Homo sapiens: one gene and its partner. The protein of the gene in region 2 purifies or fractionates together with the protein of the main gene of each other region. This does not show direct contact. Each region holds a gene or a part of one and is shown on either strand. Other genes may lie near its edges. The genes, in order: SLC41A3 and OR13J1.

What was found.
Region 1: the proteins of OR13J1 (region 2) and SLC41A3 purify together in Homo sapiens (affinity purification with mass spectrometry; one large-scale study listed by BioGRID and IntAct). This does not show direct contact.

What each region holds. Positions count from the first base shown.
Region 1 is NC_000003.12:126,010,870-126,014,689, forward strand, and holds part of SLC41A3 (solute carrier family 41 member 3), read right to left. Parts: intron 1,881-3,820; coding exon 1,746-1,880; intron 1-1,745. UniProt on the Homo sapiens protein: Na(+)/Mg(2+) ion exchanger that acts as a predominant Mg(2+) efflux system at the mitochondrial inner membrane.
Region 2 is NC_000009.12:35,868,806-35,871,951, reverse strand, and holds OR13J1 (olfactory receptor 13J1), read left to right. Parts: upstream 1-1,550; coding exon 1,551-2,489; downstream 2,490-3,146. UniProt on the Homo sapiens protein: Odorant receptor.

The DNA of each region.
Region 1 (3,820 bases), on a different chromosome or scaffold from region 2:
AATGGTGAACCCAGTCTTCCATCCCCACCTGGGCAGCAGTCCATCCCTTCTCCCCAGTGGTGCAGTGTCAAAGGAAGCCAGCTAAGTAGAGATTCAAACATGATCCAAAGTCTTGTCCATAATACCCAAAATGTCTGGATTCAAATGAAAATCACTCATCTTACCAAGAGCAAGAAAAATCTCAACCTGGATGAGAAAAGACAACCAACAGACAGCAGAGTGAGACGACACAGACGTCAGCATCACCTGAAAGCCGTTCTAATGAAGCCACTACAACAATCCTTCATCATGCAATCACAAACCCACCTGAAACAAACAAAAAAATAGAAAGTATAAGCAAAGAAATAGAAAGTCTCAGAAAAGAAAAAGAAGATAGAAAGAAAGAAGAACCAAATGGAAATGTTAAAACTAAACACATACAATACCCCCAAAAGTCCCAGACAACTCAGTGAATAGGCTCAATAGCAGAATGGAGAGGGCAGGGGAAAAAAGATCAGTCAACTTGGAGAAAAAAGTGATAGAAATGAGCCAATCTAAACAAGGAGAGTAATAGACTTTGCAAAAACCAAACAGAGTCTCAGGGACTTGTGGGGCTGTAACAGAGGATCTAACATTCATGTCATTAGAATATCAAAAAGAAGGAGAGTGCAGCTGAAAAAGTGATGGCTTAAATTTTCCGATTTGACAAAAGATATAAATCCATGTGTTCAAGGAGCCTAACAAACCCCAAATAGGATAAACCCCAAAAAGTCCATACCAATACATATCATAATCCAACTCCTAGAAACTAAAGACAAGGTCTTGAAATATGCAAGAGAGAAATGGCACCATACCTATACAGCAAAATAAATTGAAATGGCAGATTTCTCATCATAAGTCATGGAATCAGAAGGAAGTGGCACATTTTTCAAGTGTTTGAAAACAACTATTGACACCGAATTTTACAACCAGTGAAAATATCCTTCAGAAATGTGCCAACAGCCAACCCAAAAGAAGGCTAAAGGTAGTTCTTAGAAAGGAAATCCAAAACAATGTAACAGGAAAGAAGATCTGATTTTTCAAAGCCAACAAAAAGACACAACATCTCCAAAAGCTTCCAGTGGTTCTGAGTAGAATCCAGGTTCCTTCCTCAACTCCAAGGCTCTGTCGGATCACCTCCTTCCGGCCTCTCTGGCCTCAGCCTCCTTCATCCCCTCCTGTCCATTCAGCTCAGGCCACATTGGCCTTTCAGTTCTTCAGACTTGCCACACTCCTTCCTGCCTCTGGGCCTTTGCTAGACTGCACCCACTGCCCTGAAAGCCCCTTCTTCTCTTGCCCTCCTCCTCCCAACAACACCCACTTGTCCTCAGGGAGGAGCTTCCTTATCCCAAGTGTATTTCCTCTAATTCTTTTTCACTGCACTCTGCACTTTTGCTGCTCGGTACCCAACATAATTTTTAATTACGAGCCCACTTGTGTTTATCTGCCCTTCTATACTGTGTACTTCAAGGGCAAGAAATCAGCTCTCCCTGTTTCACCACTAACCTAACACCTAGTGCCCAGTGGACATTCAATAAATAATTGAATGAAGGAATGAAGGAAAGGCAGGGCCGGGGAGTCTCATTTCTGGGGCCCTGAAGGTGATGTGTGCCGAGATCAGCCCTGGCTTCAGGCATCCATTGCTACAAACACCAGATTCCAATGACACCGATGTTTTCTTGTTTAAAGAAATGGCTATCATGGCCTCTGAAAGACATGACACCCACCTGACGTGCAGAAAGTAGAACACGGGTTGGGCCAGAATTTCTTCATCTGGAGGGGCAGGACGCCAGGTGCACTCCACATGTGCAGGTAGGTTGAGATTCGGCTGGTCTGAATGGCCACCAGATTGCCACCAACACCTACGAGGAGAAAAGGAATCTGTTTTCCCTTTCTTTACGCCAGTCTCTAAGTTGTATCCCTTATTTTAAGTTCCCTTCCTCCAGGAAGTCTTCTTTGGTTAATTCAGTATTTCATTATCTTTTCCTTTCCTCCCACTTGACCACAGATCTTGTTTGGCAGCAAGTCAGGGTGGCCCAGAGCTTGTGAGTGAGGTATCCAGGGAGTAACTGCATCACCTTGACTGCTGGCATCTCTTAAGGTGAGGGGAGTGCGGCTGTAAAGTAGGTTCTCAATAAGTATTTGTTGGCTGGAGCGAGGATGGGAGGGAGGGGATCCAGGGACAAAGTAAGGATGAGGGGAGAGTGGATAGAAAGGTCTGAGAATAGTGTGATAAGGCAGTCTGGATAAGTCAGACCTCAAGGCCACAGGCATTGACAGGAAACAGACTACAGCCTGGAATATCTGAGAAAATGAAAGTGATTTTTTTTTTTTCACTCAAGGTGGGAAGGAGAGAGGAGGAATGAAGACAGTGGATAAGAATGAGAGGGGGCCAGGCATGGTGGCTCATGCCTGTAATCCTAGCACTTTTGGAGGCTGAGGTGGGTGGATCATTTGAGGTCTGGAGTTCGAGACCAGCCTGACCAACATGGTGAAACTCTGTCTCTACTAAAAATACAAAAAAAATTAGCTGGGCATGGTGGTGCACACCTGTAATCCCAGCTACTCAGGAGGCTGAGGCAGGAGAATCACTTGAACCCAGGAGTCAGAGATTGCACTGAACCAAGATCACGCCACTGCACTCCAGCCTGGGTGACAGAGTAAGACTCTGTCTCAAAAAAAAAAAAAGAATGAGAGGGAAGGTGAGGGGAGGACAGAGATGATCACAGGCAGGTGGCAAAGCAAGCATGCGGCAGGAGACATGCCTGGGACACCTCTCATGGCTGTGTGGTCTGAGAGCGTTGAAGAAAAGACGTTGTCTGCTGCATGATTTCAATTTGTGGTGCTAGGTGAGCCCCTCTCTCGGAGCTCAGTTGTCAGTGCAAACTCCCACATTCATAGATGCTTTGGGTGTGTGCCCAGAGCAAGTGGCTTTAGGGGAAACAGGACGAGCGGGGTCATGTGTAGACTGACAGGGCATAGAACACAGAACCCTAGAGGCAGAGTCATGAGGCCCAGAAAACCATGAGCACATGCGGTCTCTGGGAACACCAGGGCTTCCTGCTGAGACTCCGGGATCCCACAGGGTATGAAAAAGGTTTCAAGCTCTGCCCGGGCCAGATGGTCCAGCTGACAAAGGCCATGCTGAGCATTCCTTCTGTGGGGGCAGATGCGGGGGCGGGCTGATGGAAGGTGGGGATTCCCCTATCCTACTTGCTCAGTGCCATGGAGAACTCTCCCTAGCTGGGCCAGGTGTGCACCAGTGACCTCTCAGGCAGAGGCCAACCACACAGGCTGTTCTAGAGGATGCAAACAATTGTCTTCAGGCAGAGGACTGCTGCGATCTATTCGGCTTGGCCCATACATAATTTTAAAAAGAAAAAGGAAAAAAAAACCTCAAATTAATTGGTACTGTTTACAAATTAGGCCCTTAATACAGATTCCCAGCTTCTCTTCCCAAGTCAGCACTGGCAAGTCTGGACCTACACTCTCCCGAGGCAACTACTGGCTGGAGCTGGACAGGCACCACACTGTTCATATGAGAAATGCATTCTGCAGCTTACCCCTGCCATTTCTCACTGTCTAGCTGCATAATTCATGCAGATTGTTTGGCCACTGAAGGCATCCGAGTTGGTGACTCATCCCAAAAAATCACTCCAACGTAATAAGCCCTCTGTTGCTGTTCTCATGCACAATGTGAAGGCACTTTGGCACTGTTGGGGTGAGGACACGCTGGGTGGCCCACTGACATGCAAGGAATAAAGACATGGTCCCCTAAGGGAGCAAGGGAGGAGGGACACTG
Region 2 (3,146 bases):
TTGGGGGTCCTCTCTGCCTAGGAAGGGTTTGCACTCAGCAGCCTGGGAGCACACCTGTCATCAGTGCTCCCTCACATCTGGCACCACCTGACATGTAGCAGGTCCTCAGTTACTTCTAGGTTCTGGGATGAGTAAGTGAGGGTGGAATAAAAGACGGAAATGGTCTCCTGCAAGGAAGGCACTGAGAGGAACTGTGCTCCACCCAGGCCCAGGATTTGGCATCGTGTCCCATGGGATTAATGACACCGTGCCAGATACCCTGGAACACTAAGGAGAGGTGACTCATGCTCTTTTGCTGGTGAGAGGATTGTGGCAGCACCTGGGGCACTGATATCCATCTAGAATGGTAAAAGAACAAGCATTGTTTGAAACCTAATAGAAGCATACACCTGCTCTGAGCATGGTATAGGGGTCACACTGTTGGGAGGGCTGGATTCTAGCTTCACCTCACCAGAGACCTGTTGTGTGACCTCAGCATCCCCATCTATACAATGGGAGATCCAACAAGTTGGCCTCTGGTCATGTTCCATGCTAATACCCTAGGAGTTCATGAAGTCAAAGCAGCCCTCGCTCTGGCCCACAGAACATAGGGGTTTGGAGCTGGGCCAAAAGCTCCATCAGATTTTAGCTGGGAAACCCACAGGAAGGCAGATTGTGAAGGTCCAATCCACACAGGGTAGCTAATGAAACAGGCCCTGGGCAGGGGACAGGGGAACATGCCCAGCGATAGGCTTCAAGGTCAGCAGCCCTCCAACACACAGCACGGTGTATGCTTTGTTCATGGATACTAGAGTAGGCCTGAAGAGACAGGTCAGACCACTGCAGGCCGAGGACATTCCAGACAGAAGGAATAGCAAATGCGATGGCTCAGAGGCTTCCTTAAAGCCAGGAGAATCTCCACCTGCTCAGAGACCACCTAGCCCACTAGTTCCTCAAAGTGTGGTACCTACATCAGCAGCAGAAGCATCGCCCAGACGCACCGAGTCAGAAACTGGGTTTGGGGCCCAACAATCTGTTTTAACAAACTTTCCAGGTGATTCTGGTGCATGTTAAAGTTTGAGAACTGTTGATCTAGCCTACTGTTTCCCAGACTATGCTCATAGAACACTTATCTGCAGTAGGTTAATGGGTTTTCTGTAAAAGGGGATCCATGATCAAATAAGTTTGGGGTACAGATGTTCTACATTGCTTTGCAGGAGTCATAGATCACATTAGCGTAGTAAACGCTCTGAGAAGTCCTGCAGTAAAGAGCTTTATTTTTTATTAATCCAATGTTGTCTCAAATTGATTTTTCAGATTGCTTACTAATGTTCTCATTAACATTCTCTCAGGGAATGCTGATCTAAATCAATGCTCATTTTTCACATGGATAAACTGAGGCCTAGAGAGGATAAAGGGATTGCCCGACGTCACAGACAGTGAGTGTGGCAGTGCTGGAAAAGATCCTGACAGTCCACCTCGTCCCAGAAAGGGCTCTGTGAGCTTCCCCGCACCCTGTACCCTCTCTCCTTCCATCCCAGCTGTGGACCATCTCTTCAGAACTCTGCAGCATGGAGCCGCTCAACAGAACAGAGGTGTCCGAGTTCTTTCTGAAAGGATTTTCTGGCTACCCAGCCCTGGAGCATCTGCTCTTCCCTCTGTGCTCAGCCATGTACCTGGTGACCCTCCTGGGGAACACAGCCATCATGGCGGTGAGCGTGCTAGATATCCACCTGCACACGCCCGTGTACTTCTTCCTGGGCAACCTCTCTACCCTGGACATCTGCTACACGCCCACCTTTGTGCCTCTGATGCTGGTCCACCTCCTGTCATCCCGGAAGACCATCTCCTTTGCTGTCTGTGCCATCCAGATGTGTCTGAGCCTGTCCACGGGCTCCACGGAGTGCCTGCTACTGGCCATCACGGCCTATGACCGCTACCTGGCCATCTGCCAGCCACTCAGGTACCACGTGCTCATGAGCCACCGGCTCTGCGTGCTGCTGATGGGAGCTGCCTGGGTCCTCTGCCTCCTCAAGTCGGTGACTGAGATGGTCATCTCCATGAGGCTGCCCTTCTGTGGCCACCACGTGGTCAGTCACTTCACCTGCAAGATCCTGGCAGTGCTGAAGCTGGCATGCGGCAACACGTCGGTCAGCGAAGACTTCCTGCTGGCGGGCTCCATCCTGCTGCTGCCTGTACCCCTGGCATTCATCTGCCTGTCCTACTTGCTCATCCTGGCCACCATCCTGAGGGTGCCCTCGGCCGCCAGGTGCTGCAAAGCCTTCTCCACCTGCTTGGCACACCTGGCTGTAGTGCTGCTTTTCTACGGCACCATCATCTTCATGTACTTGAAGCCCAAGAGTAAGGAAGCCCACATCTCTGATGAGGTCTTCACAGTCCTCTATGCCATGGTCACGACCATGCTGAACCCCACCATCTACAGCCTGAGGAACAAGGAGGTGAAGGAGGCCGCCAGGAAGGTGTGGGGCAGGAGTCGGGCCTCCAGGTGAGGGAGGGCGGGGCTCTGTACAGACGCAGGTCTCAGGTTAGTAGCTGAGGCCATCGTATGCCAATGCCAGTGAAGACATGGCAGGGCTGGGGCTACAGGTCTGGTATCTTCATCCCAGCAAGGCAGCACCAAGTCCCGCTGATCCTGCCACAGAACAGCCCCCAAATCACCCTCTGCTCTCAGCATCACCCTGGCCTTCACACCAGCCTCCTGGCTGGTCCCAAGACTTCAGTCCTGTTCCTCCCTCCAATCTCTCCTTCATGGGGCATCTTTTTGAAATGCACATGTGATTGCATCACTCTTCTCACTGAAATCCCTAGGTGGCTCCCCACTGTTCTCAGAACAAAGTGGAAGCTTTTCAGTGGGGCATTTGAGGCCCTCACAAGCTGGCCCTGCCTGACTGGCTCCCCAGCCTTCCTCCCCTCCCACCCCATCTCCCTCCTCACAGCCACACACACCAGCCAGTTGTGGCCCCCACATGCCCTGCACCACCCAGCTCTGTGCTCTCCTTGTTTCTCCCCACGAGGCAGCACCCCCTCCCCTATCCCCAGCACACTTCTCCATATGTAAAAGGACTGACTGCCTGACCCTTCAGGCCCAGCTCAAATGCCACCTCCACCAGGAAGCCACCCCACCTTGCTCCTCTTGCTGTGCCCCT